Linked DNA regions of Homo sapiens. The protein of the gene in region 4 purifies or fractionates together with the protein of the main gene of each other region. This does not show direct contact. Each region holds a gene or a part of one and is shown on either strand. Other genes may lie near its edges.

Region 1 (4,912 bases), on a different chromosome or scaffold from region 4:
CACCGTCTCTACTAAAAAAAAATACAAAAAAAAAAAAACCCAAAAAAATTAGCCAGGCGTGGTAGCGGGAGCCTGTGGTCCCAGCTACTCCGGAGGCTGAGGCAGGAGAATGGCGTGAACCCGGGAGGCGGAGCTTGCAGTGAGTCGAGATTGCGCCACTGCACTCCAGCCTGGGCGACAGAGTGAGACTCCGTTTAAAAAAAAAAAAAAAAAAAAAAAGAATATTTCTGGCCGGGCGCGGTGGCTCACGCCTGTAATCCCAGCACTTTGGGAGGCCGACGCGGGCGGATCACAAGGTCAGGAGATAGAGACCGTCCTGGCTAACTCGATGAAATCCCATCTCTACTAAAAATACAAAAAATTAGCCAGGCATGTTGGCTCACGCCGTAACCCCAGCACTTTAGGAGGCTGAGGCAGGCAAATAACTTGGAGTGAGGAGTCCGATACCGGCCTGGTCAACATGGTCAACCCCGTCTCTACTAAAAATACAAAAATTAGCCTGGCATGGTGGCGCACGCCTGTAATGCCAGCTGTTCCCAAGGCTGGGGCAGGAGAATCGCTTGAACCCAGGAGGCAGAGGATGCATTTAGTCGAGATCTCGCCACTGCACTCCAGCCTGGGCAACAGAGAAATACTCTGTCTCAAAAATAATAATAATAATAATAATAATAATAATAATAATACAAGAAAGTAATAGATCTCTTCCATAAATGTGCTAGGACAACTATCTGGATATCCACATGGAAAAGAATAATGTTGGATCCCTATGTCACACAATCAAAAATTTTATTTGCGAAAGTTTTTTTTAAAAAAAAAGAGAGAGAGAGAGACAAGAAAGGGAGACCGCGGCAGTGGGCGTTATTTTGTCGCTCAGGCTGGCTTGGAACCCGAGGCTCAGGGATCCTCCCGCCGCTGCTTCCTGAGTAGCTGGGACCTCAGGCTCCCGCCCCCGCGCCTCTGCTGTCTTTAAGCAGCAGGTGGTGACCTCACTCCTTCTCGGCCTGAGCACTCCGTCCGGCATTCCAGGCGGTGGCTTCAGGGAAGTCTCTGAAGCTGAGCACAGGGCGGAGTCTCCTTCCGGAGTGAATGGACAATAGAAAGGGAGAGGATATCTATCTGTTCTGTGGGACCTCAGCATGACATGGTACATACCGCCCAGGCAGGGCTTTGCATTTCACATTCTAGTTTGTATCCCTGTTCCAGACAATTACAGTGTAGCAGGACGAGTCGCAGACAAAACCTCTCAGACACCGAGTTGTAGAAGGAAGGGCTTTATTCAGCTGGGAGCATTGGCAAGCTACTGCCTTAAAATCCAAGCTCCCCGAGTGCACAATTTCTGTCCCTTTTAAGGGCTCACAACACTAAAGATTTCAGATGAAAGGATAGTGACTGATTGAGCAAGCAAGGGATACGTGACAGGGGCTGCATGCACCGGTGATCAGGGAGAGAGAGAACAGGGCAGGAGTTTCACCGTGTTCTTCTATACAATGTCTGGAATCTATGCCTAACATCAGCTTCTAAATCATAAGTTGATTTTTAACTACTGGGTTTAGGCCAGGCGGATCCAGGCCTGGTTTCGGGCCTGGCGCGGGGCTGCCTGTCTTTGGTTTTACTTCCTGTTGTTTTTACTGACTATAAAACAATATAAAACAATGTCAGAGGGTCTCTCTCTTCTCTCAACAGGGCTTTTGTATCATGCCTCAGACTTTCTGGCGCTCTCGCCTCCAAAACCTGAAAACAGAGACGCTGGGAGCGAGGCTGAGAGACGCGCAGATCCCGCCCCGGCCCTGCCCTCTGCCGGTTCTAAAAGGCAAGGTCTCTCCGCCTCGCGCCCCGCCCCTACCTCGCCCAGGCCCCGCCTACCTCCCACTTCCCGCCCAGGCCTGGCTTTTGTCCTGCGCGCGCAGATTAACGCAAACCCGGAAGCGGATCGGGTGGAGTGTAGGTCATATCGCCGCGGTGAGTTTTGCTCTGTGTTGTATTAAGTCTGCGCTAACTAGGTTCCCAGGGCTTCTGTCCCTGGGACGTGGGGTCCCCACAGACCTGGAAATTCTCCGGCGTCTTCCTTTGCCCAGAGCAAATTGAGACATCCCCGTGAGAGCCCGAGGGTCGCTTCCTTTTGGGTTTAAAGTCGTCCTGAGGCTGGTCTCGTCCCCGGTCTTTCTGCTATAGGTCAATGTATACACTTTCTGTTGCGTAGTTTTCCTGCTGAAAACCTTGTTCTGACTCCTCGCGCCCCGCGCTTTTTAAAGTCTTCACCCGCGATGTGGATTCTTGCCCAGGGCGCCTCCCAGCCTCCCCCTCCTCAGCCCCGGGAGCGCCGCGCCGCAGCCCCAGTCCCGGGGAGGCCGAGTCCTCTGCCAGGTCCTGGGATCCTGCAGACCCCATCCTGGTCCTAAGGCGCCGTCGCGCCCCCCCCCCCCGCCCCGCACCTTCCTCCTCATGCCGGGGCCTGCTGCTCCCCAGGTCTCCCCTCCGCAGTCACCGCTTTCATTGAACCTGCACTGGGGAGGTCCCAGGGGCCTGTCCTGCGGCACGGGGTATTCTTGCCTGCGGAGCTCCAGGGCGTGGAAAATGCGCTCCTCCGGGATGCAGGCGTCTTACTCCAAACCGTGTTGCGATTGTGTGGGCCAAAGGAATCAGGAGACAGAGAGCAGTAGAAAACCTGAGGCAGAGAAAAGAAGAATAAGAAAGGCCCATAACAGATGGCAAAATAGAGGATTGGTGAGGGATATGCCAAGAGATGGCAGAAGTGAAAAAAAAAAAAAAAAACCTAAGAAAGCAGGAGGAGAAAAGCAACCGGAGAAATGTAGAGAAAGGCTAGATAGATGTACAGAGAGATGAAGGATCACAAGGTAGGGGGAGTGGCAGCAAAGAGGGAGACTCATCAGAGTGAGGGAGAGAGGGAAGGATTTGGAGCCAGGGCAGACAGAGCAGAGTGGTGCTTGTGTCAAGGAGAACAGAGGGAGAACCACAGCAGAGAGGACAGCTGGGATCTGGGGAGACACAGAGTGGGGACAAGGGAGTATATCGGGGAAGATGGAATTTAACAGGGAGAGCAGAGGAGGCGCAGAGATGGGAGAAGAGGCAGAAATAGATGGAGATTGAGGACGATTGAAAGATTGGGGAGAAGGAGCAATAAGAGGTTAAATAAGTTGTGAGGATGGAGGAGAAGAGGTGGAAGAGAAGGAATAAAGGGAAGAAGGGGATGAATAGCAGGAGAGGAGAGGGGTACAAAATGAAGAGCAGAATCCCAGGGAAAAAGAAAAGAAAACAAGAGCTAGAGAGAGAAGGGGAGAATGAGAGATATGTACAGAATTAGGGAGGGAAGCACAGTAATGAAGAAAGAGGGTCTGGACACAGTGGCTCACGCCTGTAGTCTGTAGTCTCCACACTTTAGGAGACTGAGGCAAGGGGATTGCTTGAGTCCAGGAGTTCGAGACCAGCTTGGGCAACATAGTGAGACCTCCCCCCCGCCAAAAAAGTAAGTAAATAACCGGGCATAATGGTGTGCACCTGTACTCCCAGCTGCTCTGGTGGCCAAGCTGGGAGGATGACTTGAGCCCAGGAGGTCCAGGCTGCAGTGAGCTGAGATCATGTGACTACACTGCAGCCTGGTCGTCAGAGCGAGACCTTGTCTCCAAACAAAAAAAAAGGGGCGAGAGACTGGGTTCAGATGAGTGGGTGAGTTCATTGGATATGATTGGTTGTGACATGTTGAGTTCTGTATATATAATCTAATAACTAAAAACTTGTTTAAATTACACAGATGAGATTGAGAATTTTAAAATTCGTATCTATAAGACATGTACATTCTATAAATCTTGGCATCAGAGGTTATGTTCCACTTGGAATCCCTATTTGCCAGAGGGCAGTCACTTATTCAGTTGTGAATCACTGTCTCCCCTTTTCCTAGGATGGGGTAGGACGTGGGTCAGTGAAGTGGGAAAATAGTCACTGTCTGTTGTTACAAAATACATTTAATTAATTAATTAATTAATATTTTGAGACAGGGTCTGACTCTATCACCCAGGCTGGTGTGCAGTGGCGTGATCTCCTCTAACTGCAGCCTCGACCTCTTAAGTTCAAGCCATCCTCCTTCCTCAGCCTTCTGAGTAGCTGAGACCAGAGGCATGAGCCACCAAGCCCGGCTAGTTTTTGTATTTTTTTTTTTTTTTGTAGAAACGGAGTTTCACTATGTTTCCTAGGCTGGTCTCAAAATCCTGGGCTCAAAGGATCCTCCTGCCTTGGCCTCCCAAATTACTGGGATTACGGGTGGGATTACAGGGAGGAGCCACCGTGTCTGGCCTACTTAGCCCTCAATACATTGAGTTATTCTGAATAACTCAATAACTCAATACTGTGAGTTATTCAGAATAACTCAATACTGTGAGTTATTCTGAATAACTCAATACTGTGAGTTATTCTGAATAACTCAATACTGTGAGTTATTCTGAATAACTCAATACTGTGAGTTATTCTGAATAACTCAATACTGTGAGTTATTCTGAATAACTCAATACTGTGAGTTATTCAGAATAACTCAATACTGTGAGTTATTCAGAATAACTCAATACTGTGAGTTATTCAGAATAACTCAATACTGTGAGTTATTCAGAATAACTCAATACTGTGAGTTATTCAGAATAACTCAATACTGTGAGTTATTCTGTTTTCTTTTTTCTTTTTTGAGATGGAGTTTTGCTCTGTCACCCAGGCTGGAGTGCAGTGGCACGATCTCAGCTCACTGCAAGCTCCGCCTCCCGGGTTCACGCCATTCTCCTGCCTCAGCCTCCGGAGTAGCTGGGAGTACAGGCTCCTGTCACCACTACCAGCTAATTTTTTGTATTATTAGTAGAGACAGGATTTCACCGTGTTAGCCAGGATGGTCTCAATCTCCTGACCTCGTGAT
Region 2 (4,253 bases), on a different chromosome or scaffold from region 4:
GGGCTTGGAGATGGGGTTCCCAAGCCCGGGTCCACTTCAGGAACAGATGGGGACTCTAAATATAGACTCCAGGCCTCGGGCCACACGTTTTCAGGTGGTCTGGCATGAAGTTTCCCAGCTGGATTTGATGTCCCGGCTCCACACTGGCTGGGAGCTGACCCTGAAGGGAGGAGGGTGACCTTGATCAGGAACACAAGGAATCCCCATTTCTGGGGGAGAAGCCCGCCTGGGGTCTGCCTCCCTCCCAGGGTGTCACAAGGTCTTGTTATTGTGGGTGCCGATGGCTGCCTGACAGATCGAGAAGGACCTGCTCCGCACCATGCCCAGCAACGCCTGCTTCGCCAGCATGGGTAGCATCGGGGTGCCCCGCCTGCGCAGGGTGCTCCGGGCCCTGGCCTGGCTCTACCCAGAGATCGGCTACTGCCAGGGCACCGGCATGGTGAGCACAGCCCCAGAAAGGGCAGTGGCAGCCCCAGGACCCCCTCCAGGACCCTAACAAGGAGTGGCCTCCCGCTACGGGGCAGTAGCCCCAGGGCCTCCTCCAGGACCCCTAACAAGGAGTGGCCTCCCACTCCGGGGCGTCCCCAAGGAGATCGGGGCAGCTGCACGTTATGCAAGCAGAGGCGCTCCCCAAGGGATGTGAAAGTGAGGCAGGCCAAGGAAAGCAGCCCAGGGAAGGCCTGGGTTCCAGCATGCGTGCCCCCCAAGAGGCTTTTGCTAATTGGTCTCCCTAGGGTAGGGGCACCTTTTCTAATCTGCACAAAGACCTGGGTAGAAGGCCCTTGTCCCTGTGCCCTGGCCAGGTGGCCGCCTGCCTCCTGCTGTTCCTGGAGGAGGAGGACGCCTTCTGGATGATGTCTGCCATCATCGAGGACCTGCTCCCCGCCTCCTACTTCAGCACCACCCTGCTGGGTGTCCAGACTGACCAGCGGGTCCTGCGCCACCTCATTGTCCAGTACCTGCCTCGCCTGGACAAGCTGCTCCAGGAGCATGACATTGGTAAGGCGCCCCTGAGCCACTGGCTCCCATTCTGCAGCTTGGAGGACTCAGGCGGGTGGCCGAGTGGGGATAGGGCACAGCCCCCCAACCATGGTCTTTGTCGCTCTTTTGTTCTCTGGTGTTCCCTGCCCCCTCCCCTCCTTTGCTCTTAAGCAGGGAGGACCTTGCTGCAGTTCCGGGGAGGGAGGTTTCCACCACCTCCTCCCCAGCGGCTTTGGCTCCTGTGTTTACAGAGCTGTCCCTGATCACACTGCACTGGTTCCTCACGGCCTTCGCCAGCGTGGTGGACATCAAGCTGCTCCTGCGCATCTGGGACCTGTTTTTCTACGAGGGCTCCCGGGTGCTGTTCCAGCTCACGCTGGGCATGCTGCACCTCAAGGTGCTCCACGGCCCCACTTCAGGCTGAGGAGTAGGCACCCGAGATGGGGGGCAGGGGAGCAAGAGACCTCCCTGGGCCAGGCAAGACCAGCCCCCTGGCCCCTGACAACTGTGCCAAGGCAAACGGGTCCCTGAGGATGGGGGTTGGGGTCAGCTCAGTGCCACGTCCCTGCAATGACAACCTTCTTCCCCCATCCTGCCCTGGCATGGCCCAGGAGGAAGAGCTGATCCAGTCAGAGAACTCGGCCTCCATCTTCAACACGCTATCGGATATCCCGTCGCAGATGGAGGACGCGGAGCTGCTTCTGGGGGTGGCCATGCGGCTGGCCGGCTCCCTCACCGATGTGGCCGTGGAGACTCAGCGCCGCAAGCACCTGGCCTATCTCATTGCAGACCAGGGCCAGCTCCTGGGGGCCGGCACCCTCACCAACCTCTCTCAGGTGGCCCAGGATGGGGGGCCGCACCTTGACCCACAGCACACGGGGAGGAGGGGTCACCTTGAAGTTCAGAGCGCGGGGGCTGCGGAAAACAAACCAGCCCTTCCTGCTCTGCCCCCCAGCCTGGCCCAGTCAGACCACAGCTGTGGGGTGATCCAGGCCTCCTCAGGCTTTGTGCACCTCAGGTTCTGATCCTGGCACGGTTTGGGAGGAAGGCAGACCCAGCTCTGATTATCTGTTTTCAATTCTTGGAGCCAGCGTCAGAGGCTATTTCAGATGAGACAGTATAAGCCAAGGGCTGGTGGGTTCTCTTCCTCCCGGGGCCAGGACCACCCTGACCCACTCCTCTTGGTGCAGGTTGTTCGCCGCAGGACCCAGCGGAGGAAGTCCACCATCACTGCTCTGCTCTTCGGTGAGAGCTCTGCGAGTGCCAGGCAGTGTGGGCATGCGGGAGTCTGTCCTCACGCTCATGTGGACGTGGAGCTTCCTCCTCGGGGGCCTGGAGTGGGCTGTGGTCACCATGGTTCTCTGGGCCTCCTAGGGGAGGATGACCTGGAGGCACTCAAGGCCAAGAACATCAAGCAGACGGAACTGGTGGCTGACCTCCGGGAAGCCATCCTGCGCGTGGCACGCCACTTCCAGTGCACAGACCCCAAAAACTGCAGCGTGGTGAGTCGCCAGCTCCCTGGGCTGCTACCAAACACGGCCCTAACTCCTCCAACCCCCTTGGTGGGCCTGTGTTCACTGTGGCAGGAGCTGACTCCAGACTATAGCATGGAGAGCCACCAGCGGGACCACGAGAACTACGTGGCGTGCTCACGCAGCCACCGGCGCCGAGCCAAGGCCCTGCTGGACTTTGAGCGGCACGACGACGACGAGCTGGGCTTCCGCAAGAACGACATCATCACAGTGCGTGGGGGCGCTGGACTACCAGGTCCTCAGGCTGTGGCGGGTTCCCCAGACTCCCTCCACCAAGCCCCACCCCAACCCCTTTCCCTGCCAAGAGCTTCTCTTGTGAAGATGTAGGGGTCTTGGCCTGGCCTAGTTGCTGAGGAGTCATATCGGGGGTGCAGGAGGCGCTGGCCCAGGGCACCCAGCTTTGGTTCCTGCTGTTTTTCCTCCTGTGCAGATCGTGTCTCAGAAGGACGAGCACTGCTGGGTGGGGGAGCTCAACGGCCTGCGAGGTGGGGTCCTTGGTCTGCTCTTGAGCTGGGAGAGGGAGGAGGGGGTGGGCACAGAAGACTTGGGTGACCCTGGCCGCCACCAAGCTGTTCTCCTCTATACACCTGCCTGGCTTGAGGTCCCTGAAGCAGCTGAGCCGGCTTCCCACTGCCTCAGCCTGCCTGCAGGCTGTGTCTGCTCTGTCCTCGGCCCTCGTGGTTGCTCCTTACAGGGCCTGTTTTTCCCACAGGCTGGTTTCCAGCCAAGTTCGTGGAAGTCCTGGATGAGCGCAGCAAAGAGGTGAGGGGGGTGGGCGGGCTAGGCACGGCTGGCACCCTTCTAGCCAGGGCCTGCGTGCCTAGCGAGTCCTGGCCTGTAGCATGGCAGAGAGGACAGAGGAGGGTGACTGGCTGCAGGCGTCAGGCAGGGCTTTCTCAGACCCATCCCTCCCATCAGTACTCCATCGCGGGGGATGACTCGGTGACGGAGGGGGTCACAGACCTCGTGCGAGGGACCCTCTGCCCGGCCCTTAAGGCCCTGTTCGAACATGGACTGAAGAAGCCATCCCTGCTTGGGGGCGCCTGCCACCCCTGGCTGTTTATCGAGGAGGTAAGTCAGTGGCTGGGCCCATGACCCCCACCCTGCACCAGCCCTGCTGTGCCCCCTAGTACCCATCTTAGGTCCTTCCTGCCCCACAGAGAGGATGGGAAGAGCTGGCAGCGTGGTGACAGGTGCCCAGTCGGCCCCAAGGGCTTTGAACCAGCATCTTCCTGTCCCTGCACTCACACCGTGTGCTGTCCCCACAGGCTGCAGGCCGGGAGGTCGAGAGAGACTTTGCCTCCGTGTATTCCCGTCTGGTGCTCTGTAAGACCTTCAGGTAACTCGGCCCGGGTTCTTCTGGTGGGGTCACCAGCAGTGGGAGGGCGGGGCCTGACCCAGCCCCGGCACCCCAGGAGCTTTGGTGTCCCCTCAGGTTGGATGAAGATGGCAAAGTCCTGACCCCGGAGGAGCTGCTCTACCGGGTAAGGGGGCCTCCTCTGCCAGACCCTAGAGACCTCTCTGGGGTTAGCCTGTGGGGGAGCCTGAGTGACAGCTGACGGTGCCGTTCCCAGGCTGTGCAGTCTGTGAACGTGACCCACGATGCAGTGCATGCACAAATGGATGTGAAGCTCCGCTCACTGATCTGCGTGGGGCTCAAGTGAGTGTGGAAAAGGGGTTGGAGGAGAGCCCTGGAGTGGGGGGACCCAGCCCAGCATCAGGGGGGGTCCTTACAGGGAA
Region 3 (4,253 bases), on a different chromosome or scaffold from region 4:
ACAATGTTTTGGAAGTGCTGGGCTCTACGAGGTTCTTTACTCGAGAGTCTGCGGTCTCTGTCACATGCAGATGGACACCGGGGATCTGCAGGAAGCGGGGGCACTGTTGCATTTCCAGCCTCTGTTACCAGAGCCCTCTTTTTCAGTTTGCTGAGGGGCACAGCCTTCCCTGTCTGGCCCAGGGCATCTCCAGGCCAGGTGGCAGGTGCCTTCTGAACCAGATGTTTGTGTGCGGGCTGCCAGTCCATATTTATACTGCCGGGACATGGCTCTCCCTGTCTGGAGGGCACTATGGAGTGTGGATATGGGGGTGGCTCTCTGCAGACTTGTGTGGAGGAAACTGATGGAGGCAGCCATCTCCAGGAGATCAGTCATGGTCCTGGCTGCCATCAGTTTCATCTGGGTGGTCTTGGGTACATGTGGCCAATACTGAAGATGCATTTGGACAATTCATAGACACGGAGCTGTAGGTGCTTTTGGGAAAAGCCATGGATGGGTTTGGGCAAGTCATAGATACATTTGGACGAGCCTTGAGTGTGTTCAGGAGAGCCATGGATGGGTTTGGGCAAAGCCATCTCTGCACCTGTTTGTGTTCCATGGTTTCCTTTTCCTCCTCTCCAGGCAGGGTTAACACAGAGTATCCCCATCCTGCGGCGGGACCATCACATCCAGAGGGCCATCGGTCTCTCCCCAATGTCCTTCCCCACCGCCGACCTTACTCTGAAGGTAACACCAGCCCTGAGCTGGGTGAGGGCCCACCCAGTACCTTAGCTTACAAAGAGGCAGAAGGGAGGAGTCCCCGAACCCCTAAAGCTTAGATTGGCTCTGTCCACTGCCAGCGTGATAGTAATTTTCATCCCTCCCCCTCCCCTTGCTTCTGAAGATGGAGTCTGCGCGCAAGGCTTGGGAAAACTCCCCCAGTTTGCCGGAGCAGAGCTCTCCAGGCGGCGCTGGCTCAGGCATCCAGCCTCCATCCTCTGTGGGTGCCTCCAGCGGGGTCAACTACAGCTCCTTCGGTGGAGTGTCCATGCCACCCATGCCTGTGGCCTCTGTAGCACCTTCTGCTTCTATGCCAGGTATCTCATCCCCTGAGCAAGGCCTTGGGGTCCTTCTCCATTTATTATCAAGAAAAACGGATTAACAGCCCCGAATGTCACCTCCTGGCCTTGTCTTAAGTAGCATGTAGAAGTAGCAACTTGTTTTTAGGCCCAGTGGTCGTAGCTCCCATGTGCTGCAGGTAATGTGCACGTCCTGCTTCCCCACGCTGGGAAACAGAACTGGGGGATAACAGCGAGGCACTCCTGCCTACTGGTGACAGGAGCGAGCAAAGGCTTGACTTTGAGTCAGACCTGGGTCATGTGCTGGAGCCGTGTCGCCTCGGCTGGTGAGCAGCTCTTGCCGAGCCACAGTGTCCTCTCCTCTCTTACATGAAACTCCGTGGGGTGGCCACACCCGTGAGGCCAGGTCTTACCTGGAAAGGGCTTTGTATCAACAGAGCCCTCAGTCACTGGCAGCTACTTTTGTCCTGATTGCTGCCATCCTTATCGTGTGCCAGTGTCCCCAAGGGGAAGCGTGGGGGTTTTGAGGGCCCAGCTGCCAGTCTCAGTGATGTAATTCCAATAGATCCTTCTGACCCTCCACTGTGGACTCAATAGCAGGGAGATGAAGAGGACAGTGACTGAGAGACCAAGGCAGCCCTGGTTAAAGTAGAATGCCCCTTCGAGTGTCTGGGGTAGTTGGTGAGTGGGAGGTGGGAAGGGTAGGCCAGAGCCCACCTGCCTCCTCCCTCCTCCTAGGTCTGACGCTGCACCCTCCCTACGTTCCCTGAGGTGCGTGCCAGGCGTGTTGTGAGCAGGCGTGTGCTTCCGGCACACAGGGAACCTAGCAGCCTCTGTACACACGCCCTCGTCCCCACTGAGTCCCCTGGGTAGAGCAGACCTGTAGACTGTTTCCCTCAGGGACATTGAGAAGTAGTGAGGCTTGATCCTCTTCTACGTCCCTTTTGCCGCTCTGTTTCCAGGCAGCCACCTCCCGCCCCTGTACCTGGATGGCCATGTGTTTGCAAGTCAGCCCCGGCTGGTTCCTCAAACGATACCTCAGCAGCAGAGTTACCAACAGGTGACAGCAGCTAGCCAGGTGGCCTGGCTGGGGGTGGTGGGGAGGAGCCAGTGCAGGGCGGAATTGGCTTGCTCATCTATTTCTCATTGTCTGTCTGGTTTTCCATCCCCCTCACATGTGGTGACCAGCACCTGGCCCGCCACGGCAGCCAGGAGGCATTTGTTAAGCGAATAATCGAGACAGGGAAGAGGAGTGGAGTTGGCTGCTCCAGACTCTGCTTAGTTTTCCTTTCTCAAAGTTCTCCCTCCTGTGTCCTAGCCGGGGAATTAGCTAAAATGGAATTTTCTTTGGTGATCAGGTATCCTTCTGATGAAGAGAAGAAAGGCCTAAACTCCCAGGCATGGATGCATTAGAAAGAGGTAGTCTTAGAAATGAGCAGGCGTTGGTTATTTATGCAGGACTGGCATACTTTCTGTGCTGCCAAGGGGTGATTTTTGGAAGTCTCCCCTCTAATGCTGGTGCTGGGCCTTTGGGATGGTCTAGCCGCCCCTCAGACCCATGTGCCTCCACAGCCACGACAGTGGACTTCCAGGCAGAATCTGCTCCAAGTGCAGGCTTGCTGATGGAGGATGTGGCCTCTGCTGACCTCTTTTTAAAAACATGTTCTTAACTGCTGTATTGTTTGGTTACCAAGATTTTGGTTCTTGCATAACTGGGTCAGACTGCATGTATCTTTCTTTTTGTGCATTGTTAAATTCAGCGTTATGTTTTTGGAACTCACCTCTGTTGACGTATGTGCTAGGATCCATTTTTGTTGCTGTGTAGAATTCCAGGGTAGGGATATGCTGTGGTTTGGGGTTGCTACCAGTTTTTCATTATAGGCTTTATCCCAATAGCAAGGGAAGCCCAGGAATGACATGCTGGCATTTGAATTTTGGGCAGTGTTCCAGCAGCCATGTGGAGAGGGGCAGGGGAGGTGGGAGGGGAAGAACCACCTGGATGGGCCTTGCGGTTACCTCCCCGACCCCGTTTTCCCGTTCACAGGCCGCCGCTGCCCAGCAGATCCCGATCTCCCTTCACACATCTCTGCAGGCACAAGCTCAGCTTGGACTGAGGGGTGGGCTTCCTGTGTCCCAGTCCCAGGAGATCTTCAGCTCCTTGCAGCCCTTCAGGTGAGCTCATGTACCAGCTTGCGGAGCTGGCAGCTCACAGCCAGGGCCTTGGCCCTGTGTGCAGCCTTCGTCCTGCAGCTGTTTGGTGCTTGTCTGCTTTGGGGCCAGTGGGGCGGGGAGGGGTGGGAGTTTGCTCTGAATCACTCTTCAGTCCGTTGTTAACTGTGCTCTAGGAGAGGCCTGGGGCGAGCTGATATGTGGTGGGCCGTGTTTTGCTTTTCCATGTCATCTTGCCTCCTTTCCTTGCTCCTTCCTCCTCCTCTCCCCTTGACTCCCTGTCTCCTCCCCACCGCGGGCTTCTCCGTCAGTGTGGCTGCCAGTCATTGTGGCTGATGTCCTGTGCCTCGTACAGCCTGGATGTCTTCACTTGTTTAATCCAGCAGCATCAGCGCCATCTAGGAGCTTGTTCTCAGGCCCCATCCTGGACCCTCTGAGTCGCGCTCTGGGGGTGGGGCCGGGGATCTGTGGTTTAGCAAGCTCTCCGGGGATCTCTGAAGGGTGGGACCAGATCCGCAGCTGGACTCATCCACCTGATCCCGACCATCTGTCTGGCTTTTGCAGATCTCAGGTGTACATGCACCCCAGCCTGTCACCGCCCAGCACCATGATCCTCTCTGGGGGCACAGCCTTGAAGCCTCCATACTCGGCGTTCCCAGGCATGCAGCCCTTGGAGATGGTGAAGCCGCAGTCTGGCTCACCCTACCAGCCCATGAGCGGGAACCAAGCCCTGGTCTACGAGGGCCAGCTCAGCCAGGCTGCTGGCCTGGGTGCCTCCCAGATGTTGGACTCCCAGCTCCCACAGGTCAGGAATTCAGTCACTCTACCCAAAGCCCTAGGCTTCTTTCCTTCACGACCTTGCCTTTTCTTTTCACCCGCCTCTCAGTGTGTGCTGGCCTATCGTGCTGTTGGTTGGTAGCCACCGTGCCCATTCCTCAGCGTGCAGGAAATCAGCCTCTTCTGAGTAGCCCCATCACCTTTTTTTTTTTTTGGACAGAGTCTCGCTCTGTTGCCTAGGCTGGAGTG
Region 4 (4,253 bases):
ACAAAAAAACCAACTACAACAAAAATTGCTCCTGAATGACCAGTGAGTCAATGAAGAAATTAAGAAGAAAATTGAAAAATTTCTTGAAACAAGTGATAATGGAAAACAACATATCAAAACCTATGGAATATAGCAAAAACAGTCATAAGAGGGAAGTTTTATAGCTGTAAGTGCCTACATCAGAAGACAGAAAAAACTTCAAACAGACAATCTAATAATTCATCTTAAAGACCTAGAAAAGCAATGATACCTGCATATTCTTTTGGAAAAAAAAATAGAAAAACAAGAGCAAACCAACCCCAAAATTAGTAGAAGAAATAACAAAGATGAGAGGAGAATTAAAAGAATTTGAAATAAAATACAAAAGATCAGTGAAACAAAAAGTTGTTTTTTGAAAAGTTAAACAAAATTGACATACCTTTAGCCAGGCTAATGAGAAAAAAAGAGAGAAGATCCAAATAAATAATATCAGAAATGAAAAAGGAGACATTACAACTGATATTGCAGAAATTCAAAGGATCATTAGTAGCCACTATGAGCAATTACATGTCAATGAATTGAAAAATCTAGAAAAAAATGGACAAATTCCTAGACACATATAACCTACCAAGATTGAACCATGAAATCCAAAACATGAACAGACCAATAACAAGTAATGAGATTGAAGCCATAATAAAAAGTCTCCTAGTAAAGAAAAGCCCAGGACCTGATGGCTTCACAGCTGAATTCTACCAAACATTTAAAGAAGAGCTCATACCAATTCTACTGAAACTATTCTGAAAAATAGAGGAGGAACTATTTCCAAACTCATTCTACAAGGCCAGTATTACCCTGATACCAAAACCAGACAAAGACACTTCAAAAAAAGAAAATTACAGGCCAATATCTCTGATGAATACTGATGCAAAAATCCTCAACAAGCTACTGGCAAACCAAATTCAACAATATATTAGAAAGATCCTTCATCCTGACCAAGTGGGATCCCTGGGTGCAAAGACAGTTCAACACACAAATCAATCAATGTGATACATAATATCAACAGAATGAAGGATTAAAGACCATGATTATTTCAATTGATGCTGAAAAAGCATTTGATAAAATTCAACATCCCTTCAAAAAACTGGGGATACAAGTAACACCTCAGCATAATAAAAGCCATATAAAACAGACCCACAGCTAGTATCATATCGAATGGGGAAAAACTGAAAGCCTTTCCTCTAAGACCTGGCACATGTCAAGGATGCCCATTGTCAACACTGTTATTCCACATAGTATTGGAAGTCCTGGCTAGAGCCATCAGAAAAGAGAAAGATATAAAGGGCATTCAAATTGGAAAAAAAGAAGTCAAATTATTTTTGTTTGCAGATGATATGATCCTATATTTGGAAAAACCTAAAAACTCCACAAAAAACTATTAGAACCCATAAACAAATTCAGTAAAGCTGCAGTATAGAAAATCAAACTAATCAAATCAGTAGCATCTTTATGTCAACAGTGAACAATCTGAAAAAGAAATAAAAAAGTAAACCTGTTTACAATAGCCACACATAAAATTAAATACCTACAAATTAACCAAAGAAGTGGGAGATGTCTACAATGAAAACTATAAAACACTGAAGAAAGAAATTGAAGAGGACATCAAAAAATGGAAAAATATTCTATGTTCATGGATTGGAAGAATCAATATTGTTGAAATGTCCATACTGACAGGGACAGGAGGCAGGGAAATTCTAGGCAGAAGTGGGCAGGTCCCTGGTGAGGGCCCCACCCTGAAGCCTGGAACCACAGTCCAAAGTGAGAACTTATATTTCCGTTTTCCTGCTTGAATGTTGCCTTTTCCAAAACCACCCATGGTTGACCCTGCCCCCTATCCTGTGCCCATAAAAACCCAGGCTCAGCTGGCAGAAAGAGGAGAAGCAGCTAAACGTTGGAGATTATAGTTGGATGTTGGAGAGAAGTGGCTTGACTTCAGAGGGACAGCTTGATGGCATAGCTTTGGAGAGGAGTCCAGATGGGGACAGCTGGAATCCAGGGGAAGATTACCTTCCCACTCCATCCCCTTTTCAGCTCCCCCTCCCACTGATAGCCACTTTGATCAGCAATAAAATCTCCCACATTAACCACCTTTGATTCATTGTGTAACCTCATTCCTCCTGGATGCCAGACAAGAACTTCAGTGTGGGTGCAGAAGGCTGTCACACTGACCCTCTGGTGAGCTGTTAATGCTTAAGCCATCTGCAAACAGCAAAGCTAAAAGGGTACTGTAACACTCCTTCTGGGGCTTCAAGGGTCGCAGGCACCCCGCCCCCCGGACTCTGCTGTGGGGTGCGCATAGAGTTTTGCTCCTGCCGGTGCCCAAAGGCACTCACCCCAGCTCCTGCACCCACTGACCTGTGATTCCCCTCCCACAAGGGGTAGAACACAGCAGGTTTAAGTGAGTGGAATTCGCCCCTGCTAGTGCCAAAGCGCCAGCTAGGTCCAGCACCAGTGCACTCCAGTTCCCACCCACGAAGGGGTCAAGGAAATATCCTGCTTCAATGCTACCTAAAACACAATACAGATTCAATAAAATCCCTATCAAAATACCAATGACATTCTTGTCTGGGCGCAGTGGCTCATGTCTGTAATCTCAACACTTTGGGAAGCAAAGTGTTGCTTTGTCAGATTGTTCACTGTTGACACACTTTGGGAACACAAAGAGGTGGGTGGATCACTTCAGGTTAGGAGTTCAGGACCAGTCTGGTTAACATGGTGAAACCCCGTCTCTGCCAAAAAAAAAAAAAAAAATTAGCTGGGCATGGTGGCACATGCCCATAGTCCCTGCTACTTGGGAGGCTGAGGCACAAGAATTGCTGGAAGCCAGGAGGTGAAGGTTGCAATGAGCCAAGATTGTGCCACTGCACTCCGGCCTGGGCAACAGAGTGAGACAACATCTCAAAAAAAAAAAAAAGAAAAAGAAAAAAAGACATTATGTACAAAAATAGAAAAACGAAATCCGAAAATTTATATCAAACCACAAATACCGAGAATAGCCTGTTATCCTAAGCAAAAAGAACAAAACTGAAGGAATCACATTACCTGACTTCAAGTTATACTATAGAGCTATAGTAACCAAAATGGCATTGTATTGGCATGAAAACAAACATACAGTGCAATGGAACAAAATAGAGAACCCAGAAATAAAGCCATACATCTACAAAGAATTCATTTTTTACAAAGGTGCCAGGAACATACATTGGGGAATGCGTGGTCTCTTCAATAAATGGTGCTGGGAAACCTGGATATCCATATGCAGAAAAATGAAACCAGAACCCTATCTCTAACCATATACAAAAATTAAATTAAAATGGATTAAAGAGTTAAATCTAAGACCTCAAACTATGAAACTGCTGCAGAAAATATTTGGGAAAATCTCCAGGACATTGGTCTGGGCAAAAATTTCTTGAGCAATACCCCACAAACACAGGCAACCAAAGCAAACAGGAACAAATGGGATCACATCAATTAAAAAGCTTCTGCAAAGCAAAGGATTCAATCAACAAAGTGAAGAGACAACCCATAGATTGGGAGAAAATATTTGTAAACTACCCATCTGACAACAGATTAATCACCAGAATATATAATGAGCTCAAACAACTCAATAGAAAAAAGTCTAATAATTCAATTTAAAAATGGGTAAAACATTTGAATAGACATTTCTCAGAAGAAGACATACAAATGGCAAACAGGTATATGAAAAGGTGCTCAACATCAGTGATCATCAGAGAAATGTAAATCAAAACTACAATGAGATATTTAAAATGGCTTTTATCCAAGAGTTAGGCAATAATAAATGCTGGTGAGGATGTGGAGAAAAGAAAACACTTGTGCACTGTTGGTGGGAATGTAAATTAGTACAGCCACTATGGAGAACAATTTGGAGGTTCCTCAAAAAAATTGAAAATTGAGCTACTATATGATCCAGCAATCCCACTGCTGGGTATATACCAAAAAGAAAGGAAATCAGTATATCAAAGAGATATCTGCACTTCCATGTTTGTTGCAGCACTATTCACAATAGCTAAGATTTGGAAGCAACCTAAGTATTCATCAACAGATGAATGGATAAAGAAAATGTGTTACAGATACACAATGGAGTACTATTCAGCCATAAAAAGAATGAGATCCTGTCATTTGCAATAACATGGGTGGAACTGGAGATTATTATGTTCAGTGAAATAAGTCAGGTATAGAAAGACAAATATCACATGTTC
Region 5 (4,253 bases), on a different chromosome or scaffold from region 4:
AGGCCGGGCGCGGTGGGCAGTGGCTCACGCCTGTAATCCCAGCACTTCGGGAGGCTGAGGCGGGCGGATCATGAGGTCAGGAAATTGAGACCATCCTGGCTAACACCGTGAAACCCCGTCTCTACTAAAAATACAAAAAATTAGCCAGGCGTGGTGGCGGGCGCCTGTAGTCCCAGTTACTCGGGAAGCTGAGGCAGGAGAATGGGGTGAACCCAGGAGGCGGAGCTTGCGGTGAGCCCAGATTGCGCCACTGCACTCCAGCCGGGGTGACAGAGCGAGACTCCGTCTCAAAAAAAAAAAAAAAGAAAAATGTTTCCTTAGATGAAGCTTCCCACAGATGCCGGCCCTGCTCCCTAAGCAAGTTGGTAGCTGTGTTCCCATTGATCTCCTCAGTGCCTGGATGGTAGCAGCAGATGGCACCAGGGCTCAACATACAGAAGCTTCTGTTTGGGAGACCAGGAGGCTTCATAAGACCAACAGGGAGTGCTGTTTGCTGGCTGGCATGTGGATAGTGCCAGGCACCTTGCTGACATTCCCTACTAGCTTGGGCTTGTTATCCCCATTTTACAGGTATCAAAACTGAGGCTGAGCCAGGCATGGGCCTGTAATCCCAGCTACTTGGGAGACTGAGGCAGAAGGATCTCTTGAACTCAGGAGTTTGAATCCAGCCTGGGCCACATAGCAAGACCCTATCTCTTAAAAAATAAAAATTTAAAAAAAGAGACTTAAAGGAACTAACTAGACCCTTGAAAAATTCACTAGCAGCAAGTAGACTTGGGGGGAAACAAAACAAAACAAAACAAAAAAACCTGAGGCTGAGAGAGGTTGACTGGCTTGTCCATGGTTGTCTGCTGGGGAAACAAGCCCTCTCTTCCCATCTTCCTCATCTGACTGACTCTGAAGCCTGTCTCTCAATTGCCCCACATGTGTATATGTCAAATCGTGTGGCTCCCTTACTTCACTTCGATGTCTTTTACAGGATTCCTACAATAGTCATGTCTTAAAAGCAGAAATTTCGGTGTGGCTTGGGGAAAAAAGATTATAAAGTGGACGTAGCTTGTTGCCAATGGAATCTTCACAGCAAAGCATTCCACTAGAGCCCATACTTACGTCCTTCCTCTTGGTCAGTCCCATGTGCCCAGCACTGGCACCCTCTGTGAACAGACCTTGGGTTGGGCACAGTCACCCAGAAGTAAAGCAGAAAGGAGAGGGAGGCAGACATGGAAACAATCAGTGCATTTGGTGCACGAATAAGTGCTACAAGCTTGTTCTCAGCTTTTCCAACACACCCTGCTCCATTCTGCCCCTTCGCATATACTCTTCTCTGCCAACACCTCTCCTCCTTGCTTTGCTGACTCCAGCTTATCCTTCGGATCTCAGCTTGGTTGTTACTTCTTCAGCAAGCCCTCCCCATATAGGTTAACTATCTCTGCTTTGCTGCCCCAGACATAGTATTTATTCTCTACTGTAGTTGCCTAGCTATTTGTCTGTCTGCCCTGCTAGAGGGTAAGCGCCACAGAGGCAGGGATCATGGCTATTTTCTCACCATTATATCATGAGTATCTGGAACAGGGCCCGGCACATAGAAATAACTCAAACATAAGTGAATGAAGAAGTCGGTTGAACAAGGGAGAGGGCCACATATGGGGCTGATGGCACAGATGAGCAATCTGACCTCTCTCCTCTCTTGTGTTGGTCTTTCAGCTGTGGTCGCCAGGACCCCCCCAGAGCCAAGACCTTCTCCAGAAGGTGACCCTTCCCCCCCACCACCACCAATGTCAGCCCTGGTCCCCGACACTCCCCCGGACACCCCTCCTGCCATGAAGAATGCCACTAGCTCTAAGCAGCTCCCACTGGAACCAGAGAGCCCCTCAGGGCAGGTCGGGCCTAGGCCAGCCCCCCCGCAGGAAGAGTCCCCTTCCTCTGAAGCAAAGAGCAGAGGACCCACCCCACCAGCCATGGGCCCACGGGATGCCAGACCTCCTCGAAGGAGCAGCCAGCCATCTCCAACAGCAGTGCCAGCCTCCGACAGCCCTCCCACCAAGCAAGGTGTGTGTAATGACCCCGGCCTGGGCCTAAACCTCTTGGCTCAGGGTCCTGGCCCTGGATCATGCCAACTGAAAGAGTCCTGTTTGCCCTAGAGGAGATAAAGAAAGGATGGGGTGAGGCCCGGAGGGAGGGATCTGAGGCTGACTCCTCTTTGGGGACAGCCTTTTGACCTGTCTGTTCTTGTTCCCTCTGCTCAGAGGTGAAGAAGGCAGGAGAGAGACACAAGCTGGCAAAGGAGCGGCGAGAAGAGCGGGCCAAGTACCTGGGTGAGTGAGCAGGAAGCCTCATCATCTTCTTCATCGTCATCATCAGCATCCTATTAATAACACCAACAGGCTGGGGCGCAGTGGCTCACGCCTGTAATCCCAGCACTTTGGGAGGCCGAGGCGGGCGAATCACCTGAGGTCAGGAGTTTGAGACTAGCCTGACCAATGTGGAGAAACCCTGTCTCTACTAAAAATACAAAAAATTAGCCAGGCATGGTGGCACATCCCTGTAATCCCAGCTACTCGGGAGACTGAGATAGGAGAACTGCTTGAACCTGGGAGGCGGAGGTTGTGGTGAGCCGAGATTGTGCCATTGCACTCCAGTCTGGGCAACAAGAGCAAAACTCCGTCTCAAAAAAAAAAAAAAAAAAAAAAAACCAACACTTCTGCAACACTTAATTATGTGCACTGTGCTAAGAGCAGGACACACATCTAATTTAATCCTCAACCCATTTTGAGGAGGAAACAGAGGCTCAGAGAGATGAAATCATTTGCTTAAGCCACACAGCTAGTAGAGTAGCTGACATTCAGACCCAGAAGCCTCCTGCCACCCCAAATCCCATGCTCTTAATCACAGTATGTGGACATCTGTCTGGTAGGCCCCCCAGGTCAGATGGGGATCTTGCACTCAAGCATTCATTTCTCCTTCAGCCCTGAGAGCCCATAAGGCCAATGGAGGAGAAATAGGCCTCTCCTGAGTCCTGTCTTCAGTAAGCCTCTCAATTTGAGGGGGTTGTCTCAGACTGAAAGCTCCACCTAAGCAGGCGGGAGAAAGACCCACCCAGGGCATGGGTAGCAGGGCTGGCCACTTGGAGGAAATGTCCTTGGCCCAGGCCTTCTGCAGAACCCTTCACACACGCCACTGGGCTCCTTTGTCCACAGCGGCCAAGAAGGCAGTGTGGCTGGAGAAGGAGGAGAAGGCCAAGGCGCTGCGGGAGAAGCAGCTCCAGGAGCGCCGGCGCCGGCTGGAGGAGCAACGTCTTAAAGCCGAGCAACGCCGTGCAGCCCTGGAGGAACGGCAGCGGCAGAAGCTCGAGAAAAACAAGGTGCGGGATGGGTCTCCGTGAATCCATGTACACGTGTGCTCACCGTCTGCATACTGGTGCAGTGTGTACACACATCCATGTTCACGGCTCTGCCTTATCTGTGTCTATGTGGTCCTATTTGTGTTCACATCTACAGTTGTGTCCCTGTGTTAGAATATCTGGGCACCTGTACAACTGCAGGCACATTTGCTTCTGAATGTGCCACTGTAGGCCCCTGTAACTGTTTACTGTCAGTACCTGTGTTCGTACATGTACCCCATGTGTCTGTATGTATGCAGGTATGCATCTGTGTGAGCGTGCCTAGCTCTGTGACATGGGTAAAGCCCTAGCTTGAGTGCTGGTGAGGAAATGAAGGAAATGGCCACCTGGCCCTACCTGGGAGGGCCTCAGGCTAGAGGGAACACATAGCCCCAAGGTCAGGACCCTCAGTGCCTGAGATGTGGCCTTGCCTGGGAGCCCCAGGTAGGGGGAGTCCACCCAATCCTCAGAGAATCAACTCATGCACTCAGGAAATGACTCAGGAACAGTGAAAAGCTCCCCAAGAACAAGTTGAAAGGGATCTTGGTCCTTAATCATAGCAAGGATTTGGTAACCTTGGTTACCTGCAATGAGTCAGGAAAAGACTCCAAGGGAAGGGAGTGGGGGAGGCATTGTCACAGGAGGAAGAAGGGCCTCTATCCCAAATTCGATGAATGTTCTGAGTCCACATCTCTCTCTTCTCCCCACCTTCCCCCAGGAGCGCTATGAAGCAGCCATCCAACGGTCAGTGAAGAAGACGTGGGCCGAAATCCGGCAGCAGCGCTGGTCCTGGGCAGGGGCCCTGCACCACAGCTCTCCAGGACATAAGACCAGTGAGTAGGCTGGAGGGGCTGGGGAGTGGGTGGGCAAGGCT
Region 6 (4,253 bases), on a different chromosome or scaffold from region 4:
CAATTTATATATATATATTTCTTTTTTTTGAGACAGGGTCTCTGTCACCCAGGATGGGGTACAGTGGCATGACCATGGCTCACTGCAGCCTCAACCTTCTTAAAAGAAGTAGCTAAGACCACAGGTATGCACCACCATACCTGGCTTTTTTTTTTTTTTTGGAAAGACAGGTGTCTCAACATGTTGCCCAGGCAGGTCTTGAACTCCTAGGCTCAAGGGATTCTCCCATCTCCTCCTTCCAAAGTGCTAGGATTATAGGCATAAGCCGTTTGCACCTGGCCTATATTTATACATTTTACATAATTTACATATTTTTATACACTTAGTAATTTACAGAAAATGTAGGGAAAAAAGAACAGTAGAAGATGTAATACTTACATACAAAGGTCTCTACATGTGTGCACAAGTCGCCACATTTAGGACAGCGCAGCTGGTTTCCACCTTTCCCAGAATTCCCAGAGCCTGATTTCTTACTACTTCCCTCACTTGCTGATTTCTAACGTTTATGAAGGAGAAAAAAGGAAGAGTGTCAATTATTAGTTTCAGGCAACCAACTTAAATGTAAACAATACTGTTTGTAATTAATTTTATAATCTTCTATATTTCTAGGATGAAATTATTAGTATATTTTATAATTCTATTACTGGTGTCAGAAGATCTATTTACTTCAAAAATCAAATCAGTTCTAGTAAATACATATATATCTGCAGTCCTCCTTTGTATAACATGTGCCAACATATATAATAAACAGCTTTCATTCAATGACTCAGGCACTAGAAAATTTACTAAGGGTAAAAAACTACATTTCAATGAAATTGAATCAGGAGTTATTATCATGGTAGGTAGTGACTCTGACTATTCTTAGATCTAACTTTTCTCATCTCTAAAATGGGAATAATTTTACTCACATCAGAGTCACTGTTAAGTATGGATATGTAAGTGTCTCACATTTTGTCTAACATATAAAATTAACTCAAGTGTTAGTCAAATTCACGTAATGAAAAAAACTGTTAAGTCACTGACTCAATACAACTACCAACATAAGTTATACTAGCTACAACATAAAGTTATACCAGAAATATGAAATTTTTAGGCTACCAGAGTAGCCCAACATTAAGTTATACCACAAATCTGAAATTTTTAGGTAGAGGATAAAGTGAGGTTTATACTGCCATGGGTTATAAGAGTTATATGAAAGCAGGAAATGATGGCTATTCCTAATTCAATCCTACTGACTGTCATTTAATGACACTTCTTTACTACTTTGGGGTGTAAGAAATTTTAATTACTGCTTACTATGTGCAATGCTTATAAAAGTATTTTAAGGTTCAAAATGAAACATCTAATTACATAAAATTATTCAGATCATTTTAGCTATCTCATATTTCCTACAGAAAACATATAAGCCAGTAAGAGACAGTACTGTTATATTTTTTTAAAGGAGGGAACTCACAATGTGTACAGATGCCAATAAGATAAAATAATTACCTTATTTCCATCTCCAGAACCATCTTTACTTATCCCATCTTTTGAGGCAAAGTATGCTGGTGTTTCTGTAAAGGATCTAAGAGGAGCTCTTTGCAGAATCTGAGTTTCAAATGTCCCAAGCCTTCCTAAAACTGACATATGAATGCGACCACCAGAAATACCTGAAAATAAAAGGAAATCTACATCAAATATAGACATGCCTCAATAAATCCCCTGGAAACAAAAATTCCTTGAGCATAAAGGAGGTTGAAAAAAAGCTATCATTTTCACAGTAGTATAAACTGAGAGAAAAAAAATGACACCAACGGAGGCAAAGTCCTTTCAAAAACAGGCCAGCAGGTCTGGGCCTCTGAAAGATTCTAAATAAATAAAGGTGTTTCTTTCTGTATGTGTCCTTTGGAAATAAGGCAAGATCACCCACGTCATAACTTTTTCAAAGTTTGAATGGACTTCAACATCTGCCTCACCTGTAAGATTTTGAAAAAGGCCATTTATGCCCTATATTCTTATTATTTCTACCAATGAGAATAAACATCTGACAGCAACTCATCTGTTATTATATAAGAATACTATCTGGGCCGGGTGTGGTGGCTCACCCCTGTAATCCTAGCATTTTGGGAGGCCTAGGCGGGTGGATCACTAGAGGTCAGGAGTTCAAAACCAGCCTGGCCAACATGGTGAAACCCCGTCTCTACTAAAAATAAAAAAAAATTGGCCACGCATGGTGGTGGGCGCCTTTAATCCCAGCTACTCGGGAGGCTGAGGCAGGAAAATCGCTTGAACCCGGGAGGCGAAGTTTGCAGCGAACTGAAGTCGTGCCACCGCACTCCAGCCTGGGTGACATAGCGAGACTCCATCTCAAAAAAAAAAAAAAAAATCTGTAACAATGGAAACAAACTTCAAATGTTCTTTAAGGTCAGGCGCGGTGGCTCATGCCTGTAATCCCAGGGTTCGAGACCAGCCTGGCCAACGTGGTGAAACCCTGTCTCTACTAAAAATACAAAAATTAGCTGGGTGTGCTAGCAGGCGTCTGTAATCCCAGCTACTCAGGAGGCTGAGGCAGGCGAATTGCTTGAACCCAGGAGGCAGAGGTTGCAGTGAGCCAAGATCATGCCACTGCACTCCAGCCTGGGCAACAGAGGGAGACTCTGTCTCAAAAAAAAAAAAAGTTCTTTAAAAAATTGTGTTATTCCACTTACACGTGGTACTTAGAAGGCAAAATCATAGAGTCAGTGAGTAGAATGGCGGTTCCTGGGGGTTGGGGAAAATGGAGAGTTATTGTTGTAATGGGTACAGAGCTTCAGTTTCACAAGATGATGGCAATGGTTGCACAGTATCAATGTACTTAATACTACCGAACTATACACTAAAAATAGTTAAGTCTTGTAAATTTTATATGTATCTTACCACAATAAAAAAATTGAAGGAGCCAGGTGTGATGGCTCACGCCTGTAATCCCAGCACTTTGGGAGGTTGAGGTGGGTGGATCACTTGAGGTTAGGAGTTTAAGACCAGCCTGGCCAACATGGTGAAACCCTGTCTCTACTAAAGATACAAAAAGTAGCCAGGCGTGGTGACAGGTGCCTGTAATCCCAGCTACTTGGGAAGCTGAGGCAGGGGAATCACTTGAACGAGGCAGAGGTTGCAGTGAGCCGAGATTGCGCCACTGTACTCCAGCCTGTGCAACGGAGCGAGGCTCTGTCGCAAAATAAATAAATAAATAAATAAATAAATAAATAAATAAATAAATAAAGATAGTATCAATCCCAAAAGTAGGCTTAGAAAAAGTAATTGAGGGGGCCAGGTGCAGTGACTCATGCCAGTAATCCCAGCACTTTGGGAGGCCCAGGGGGGCAGATCATAAGGTCAGGAGATCGAGACCATCCTGGCTAATACGGTGCAACCCCATCTCTACTAAAAATACAAAAAATTAGCTGGGCATGGTGACACGCGCCTGTAGTCTCAGCTACCCGGGATGCTGAGGCAGAAGAATCGCTTGAACCCAGGAAGCAGAGGTTGCAGTGAACCGAGATGGCACCACTGCACTCCAGCTTAAGCAACAGAGTCTCCGTCTCAAAAAAAAAAAAAAAGAAAGAAAGAAAGAAAAAGAAAAAGTAATTGAGGGAGAGTGACAGATGCAATCAATCAAAATGACCATTCACCAATCATAAAATCCTCATAAAAATGATAAAGCTCTGTAGCAAAGTAATTGGGATTTCTAACACTTTTTGTGCCATGAACCCCTTAAGCAGTCTGGTGAAGCCTCTGAATAGATCTTCTCAGAATAATATTTTTAAATGTATAAAATAAAATACATAACAAAGGAAACAAATTATAATGAAGTAGTTATCAAAAAATTTTTAAAATATGCCTCTTTATTAACAAGCAAAATTAAATAAGATCTAACAGCTTTTTAAATAATTACTATGATTTCAAAGTAGCAAAAAGTATGGACAATATTCTGAAATATCAGCAACTATAATGTGATATGAAAATATTTCTGATTTTGATTGATGACAAATCCACAGACACTTCTAAGACTACTGTGGATGTGTTGCCCACATTCATAGGCCAAGGAAACGTTGTGTTTCAGTTAGAGCTTAGTGAAAATAAAGTTCACAGAATCTCTGAATTCTATTCAAGGACCCTTTGGAGGCCTGTAAACCCCAGGTGAAGCTCTGAAAGCCAAAAAAGAGAAGTGTTTCTGTAAAGTATATTTCACCAGATTACCTGGCAGCAACCAGAAAAGACAATTTAAGTTTCAC
Region 7 (4,253 bases), on a different chromosome or scaffold from region 4:
GGCTGGTCTCGTACTCCTGAGCTCAGGCAATTCACCCGCCTCGGCCTCCCAAAGTGCTAGGATTACAGGCATGAGCCACTGCGACTGGCCAGTACTCTTGACCACTATTTTTAATACATGACAAACCCTCTTGCTTCAGATTTTAGGAAATGATTATAAGCTCCAAGAATCATTATTTAGAGAATACTTTATTAGTTTCTGTAATCAAACCCATGTAGATAAGACCTTACATATTTAATACAGTGCGTTACCCCTGTACAAATGGAAAAAAATTAAGTTTAACGTTTCTAGACCAATATGGCTGTTAATTTCTGTACAATGCCAACTCAACACAGTAAACCGGGATACTTTTTCCAAAGTTGACAGCACAGCTAAAGTTTCCAAAAATTCAAATTATATATATATATGTATATATATATATATATTTATATAAAAAGACCAATAGCAGTATGTTATGCATCAATAGCAGCAACAGCTTTTCCAGGTTCTGCAGTCATCTGAATAAAATTATAGAGACATCCAGCACACTCCATTTAAAAAAAAGGGGGGAAAAAGGTAAAAAACAAAACCCCAGAAAATTGCAAAGTTCTGTTACTGTTGTGGTACCTGGCACCGTTTTTTAAAATTAGCTTCTGAATCATCATCTGGAAAGAAAACATTCTAGAATAACATCATTAAAAACAGCTCTGATAAAGCACGGTCACTACTACGTATCATAAAGCAGGTACAAGATATTTTACATTCACAGAGGTATGATACAGTACTGTCCTATATCTATAATACTAGAGGATACAATTAAAAAGGCATTATTTGAGACTTGATTCTACTTTTCCAGCAGAGGGCCCAAAGGATGGCATGACACAGCTCTGTAAAGAAATGCACCTTCTTAGGATTTCCTTTAATTAGTGGCACAGTTCTAGGTACTCACTGTTCTTCATAAACACCAGCTAAAAACTGGTATAAAAAAAAAAAGAAAAAAACCCCCAAATCATGGGATTCATACAAAGATGACTGAGTGGGGGCAAGGAAGACTCAACCTAACCAGCATTTTACCAAATCTGTCATGTTTGAATCGTGAGAGCTCCATGGAAGAAAGGAGATGCTAAGTAGCGCTTCAAAGCTTCAGACCACAACCAAAACACAGCACCATTTCAAATAGAAGCAGTAGCCAAACACTGCTCACTTTGATATGGTTCAAGGATGCTGACATCAATATTTATCTGCTCATTCATCCAGGAAGAAGGGGACATCAGTTACTACTGTACTTTGATTGTGTTCAACTCAATCACCATGTTATAAAAATAGCAAGCTGCCATAATAAAAAATAAGGCTCCTCTATCCAGCACCAGTTATCTTCAGTTCTTTACCTCCAAGCCTACAAATGCCATAACCATATCCGAAGAACATAAGGGAGCAAAAAAACCGCATCTGATGTAGTAGCTGGGACCATCACACTGTTCAGGCTGAGCTATTCCTCTGCTGTGTTATTTTCCTTATATTTTTGGTGTTTCATCTAATCATAAGGATTTTTAGGTCTAAATTATATGCACTCAAAAAAATGGGTGCATACATTTATATATAAATTCTGACTGAAGATGCATGGCCATCAACCAAGCACATGTTATATAGTAGGTACAAGCTTGCAAAGCCTCGTTTTCACTGGTACAGCAGCTGTGTGTCAGTGTAAATTGCTCCTATGTCCCTTGTACATCTCCAAGCTCTGAACAGGATAATGTCACAGGCCATTTTGCCCCTTTGGCTGCCAGCATTATCTGACTTAATTCTCCATGTTTTCCCGCCCCCCTCCCAATCCCCTGCAATAAACCATAGCCTTTAAGATTTTGTTTCTTCGGTTTTGATCGCCTGAGGTTTGATTGGTCCAGTTCTAACAGGTTTGGTGGCTATGGAGGGTGCAGGGGGTGGCTTTTCTTCTACTTTTTCCTGACAGACCCCAGGAGGGTCGGTCAGTGTTTCAGGAGGTTTACTTGAATCACTGTCCACTTTCTGGGCTTTGCCTCCTCCTATCTGTTTGCTCTGTTGCTGTTCAGAGAAGAACCGTTGCGTGGACTGAAGAACCTCTGCTCTCTGCTTTGCCTTAAAAAATGAGAAAGAACAACTGAAAATACTGCAGCATTACCAAAGCCTGTCAAATCAATCTTGGTTCAAATTCTTTTACCAATCACAAATCAGTTTTCCCCACACTGGTTTGGCCAAAGCCAAAAGTACCTCATTGATCTTTGAGCTTTTAATGAATAGATTTCTTCCTATTTTTGAAATATTTCATGTGATTTAAAAAAAAAAAAAAAACCACAGGACCACCTCCCACCACCTTTTCAAGGTCTGCCCTCTCATATTAAATTTTATTTAGGGAACCTGCTTGCAAATCTAAAAACATACATGTAACACTTAAAACTTCTAGTTATCAATATGTGGTCTACAATAAAATGAAAAGGAAGCACTTATATTGTGGCATTACCAACACCTAGGACCAAATGTCTTGTGGCTGAGTCCTCTTCCCACAGCTCTCTTCTGCAGGGGAAGAGCATCAGAAATTAGTAACTACGACTTCACTTGATCACTAAGTTCTGATAGCTCCTACCACATTCTGAGCTGGTAAATAATTTCTTAGTTTTGACTATGTGCCCCCAAAAATATACTTACGTCAAATCTGTAAATTTTACCACTGTAACATTCACAATTAAAACTTAAGTTTCCATCCTTCTTGCATATTAAAAAAATGCTTTATGTTCTATAGGTAACCTGTACTATCCAAAGATCTGAAGCAATTTTCAAGAAGTTTGTACCCTCTCCCACCCCATTACTACTATTAAGCTCTAATGTTATTTCCAACATGGGAATATGCGAAAATCAAGAGCCAAGGAGCCAGGAGTAGAACTGGAATCCAAGGCCAAATAACTTCCTAAGATTTTTACTCACACTGGTATTTCTAATTATAACAAACAGATGGAAATCCTAGGCATACAGCCTTAATAAAAGTAGATAATTATTTAATAAAAGTTTTGCTGCTGGGTAGTCTTTAAATTTGATTACTCAGGATCAGAAACACTAGGGATGTCGACCCAAAAAGACACTTTAATCAATCAATCAAATTTTCTAATAGGATTATCATAAACATGTTTCTAATTCAGAGTAAAGCATTACTATGCACATTTCCCTGTTTGAAAGCAGTAAGCTTTTCTTTGTTCTAGTCTGATCTGATGACATATGTAGTGACAAAACAGGCAAAAATTACTAAGATCCCTGAAAGTCAAGCCTAAAGTAAATATAGAAATAAACGGATTCAACTGGCTGTACTGGCAGACATGTAAGGTTTATGCTACAAAACTGTCCCCACACAGACTCCTAAAGGCACTCTTTCTGCATTAGCAAACCTCATGTTTATCAGTGCCTTTCATCATGAAGGATCCCAAAGTGCTTTTCTGAGTTCTTCATCTATAACTGCACAATCCACTGTGGAATACAACCACCTCATGTGGTAGGCCAATAAGGGTATGAAAACAGTTTGAGAAGAAAACTGTACTTTGATGACTCATAATGGAAAAAAGTACTAAGATAGTAACACATCTTACCCATTCCAGAGTTTTCATATAACCATGATTTACATTTTAAGCTGCTGGGAGGAGGAGAGTCAGGGGAAAGGGGGGAAGAAAATATATATTAAAAAAAAAAAAAAAAAGAAAGAAAATGGGGAAGTCTATAATAATTGATATTACTTCTTTGCTATTCCAAAAAAAAGTGTGCATCTAAACTCAGATCTCCCTCAAATATTTATTTGATAACAATTCATTTGGCCACAGTTTAAGACATTAATTCATTTCCTGACTACAGTTGCAAAAAAAAAGAAAAAGAAAAAGAAACAAAAAGAAAAAAAAGATGAAAGGAATGGGAATGGGGGAAAAAAAAGAAAAAAAAGGGGGAATGAATAAAAGTAGTTAGCTTGGTTAAGTCTGCTAAGACAATGAATGCCTGGATATACAGTTATGGGTCCAGAGGCATTTTAAGACATGGTTCAGAGACAGATTCTTGATCTGTTGGCTGTTAACACTGTACTAACCTTCATGTCTTGTTCAGCCTTCAACGCAGCCTGGGCCTGATTACCTCTGACTCCAGATAGTGATCCACAAGGACCCCTGGCTACATGTGGCAAACGAGCATGGCTCATGAGGCCTGTGGTCAGCGGAGGAGGCATCTGACTGGCCAGTGCCATTGGTGGCCTCTGAACAGGCGCTGGG

What was found.
Region 1: the proteins of KLF8 (region 4) and ZNF611 purify together in Homo sapiens (affinity purification with mass spectrometry; one large-scale study listed by BioGRID and IntAct). This does not show direct contact.
Region 2: the proteins of KLF8 (region 4) and SGSM3 purify together in Homo sapiens (affinity purification with mass spectrometry, with the first as the bait; one large-scale study listed by BioGRID). This does not show direct contact.
Region 3: the proteins of KLF8 (region 4) and PRRC2B purify together in Homo sapiens (affinity purification with mass spectrometry; one large-scale study listed by BioGRID and IntAct). This does not show direct contact.
Region 5: the proteins of KLF8 (region 4) and MAP7D1 purify together in Homo sapiens (affinity purification with mass spectrometry; one large-scale study listed by BioGRID and IntAct). This does not show direct contact.
Region 6: the proteins of KLF8 (region 4) and CLPX purify together in Homo sapiens (affinity purification with mass spectrometry; one large-scale study listed by BioGRID and IntAct). This does not show direct contact.
Region 7: the proteins of KLF8 (region 4) and PRRC2C purify together in Homo sapiens (affinity purification with mass spectrometry; one large-scale study listed by BioGRID and IntAct). This does not show direct contact.

The regions. Positions count from the first base shown.
Region 1 is NC_000019.10:52,732,048-52,736,959, reverse strand, and holds the start of ZNF611 (zinc finger protein 611), read left to right. Parts: upstream 1-1,915; 5' UTR 1,916-1,959; exon of another isoform or gene 1,960-2,166; intron 2,167-2,499; exon of another isoform or gene 2,500-2,929; intron 2,930-4,912. UniProt on the Homo sapiens protein: May be involved in transcriptional regulation.
Region 2 is NC_000022.11:40,404,846-40,409,098, forward strand, and holds part of SGSM3 (small G protein signaling modulator 3), read left to right. Parts: intron 1-248; exon of another isoform or gene 249-295; coding exon 296-439; intron 440-803; coding exon 804-999; intron 1,000-1,232; coding exon 1,233-1,378; intron 1,379-1,592; coding exon 1,593-1,817; intron 1,818-2,171; coding exon 2,172-2,226; intron 2,227-2,355; coding exon 2,356-2,483; intron 2,484-2,567; coding exon 2,568-2,723; intron 2,724-2,943; coding exon 2,944-2,998; intron 2,999-3,225; coding exon 3,226-3,275; intron 3,276-3,431; coding exon 3,432-3,584; intron 3,585-3,781; coding exon 3,782-3,852; intron 3,853-3,928; exon of another isoform or gene 3,929-3,948; coding exon 3,949-3,997; intron 3,998-4,087; coding exon 4,088-4,173; intron 4,174-4,253. UniProt on the Homo sapiens protein: May play a cooperative role in NF2-mediated growth suppression of cells.
Region 3 is NC_000009.12:131,484,065-131,488,317, forward strand, and holds part of PRRC2B (protein PRRC2B), read left to right. Parts: intron 1-621; coding exon 622-726; intron 727-883; coding exon 884-1,076; intron 1,077-1,600; exon of another isoform or gene 1,601-1,686; intron 1,687-2,020; coding exon 2,021-2,118; intron 2,119-3,102; coding exon 3,103-3,230; intron 3,231-3,791; coding exon 3,792-4,032; intron 4,033-4,253.
Region 4 is NC_000023.11:56,252,462-56,256,714, reverse strand, and holds part of KLF8 (Krueppel-like factor 8), read right to left. Parts: intron 1-4,253. UniProt on the Homo sapiens protein: Transcriptional repressor and activator. Binds to CACCC-boxes promoter elements. Also binds the GT-box of cyclin D1 promoter and mediates cell cycle progression at G(1) phase as a downstream target of focal adhesion kinase (FAK).
Region 5 is NC_000001.11:36,169,267-36,173,519, forward strand, and holds part of MAP7D1 (MAP7 domain-containing protein 1), read left to right. Parts: intron 1-1,704; coding exon 1,705-2,049; intron 2,050-2,246; coding exon 2,247-2,315; intron 2,316-3,197; coding exon 3,198-3,361; intron 3,362-4,097; coding exon 4,098-4,212; intron 4,213-4,253. UniProt on the Homo sapiens protein: Microtubule-stabilizing protein involved in the control of cell motility and neurite outgrowth. Facilitate microtubule stabilization through the maintenance of acetylated stable microtubules.
Region 6 is NC_000015.10:65,178,556-65,182,808, forward strand, and holds part of CLPX (ATP-dependent clpX-like chaperone, mitochondrial precursor), read right to left. Parts: intron 1,650-4,253; coding exon 1,489-1,649; intron 497-1,488; coding exon 379-496; intron 1-378. UniProt on the Homo sapiens protein: ATP-dependent chaperone that functions as an unfoldase.
Region 7 is NC_000001.11:171,589,428-171,593,680, reverse strand, and holds the end of PRRC2C (protein PRRC2C), read right to left. Parts: coding exon 4,076-4,253; intron 2,530-4,075; coding exon of another isoform or gene 2,477-2,529; intron 2,095-2,476; coding exon 1,834-2,094; 3' UTR 170-1,833; downstream 1-169. UniProt on the Homo sapiens protein: Required for efficient formation of stress granules.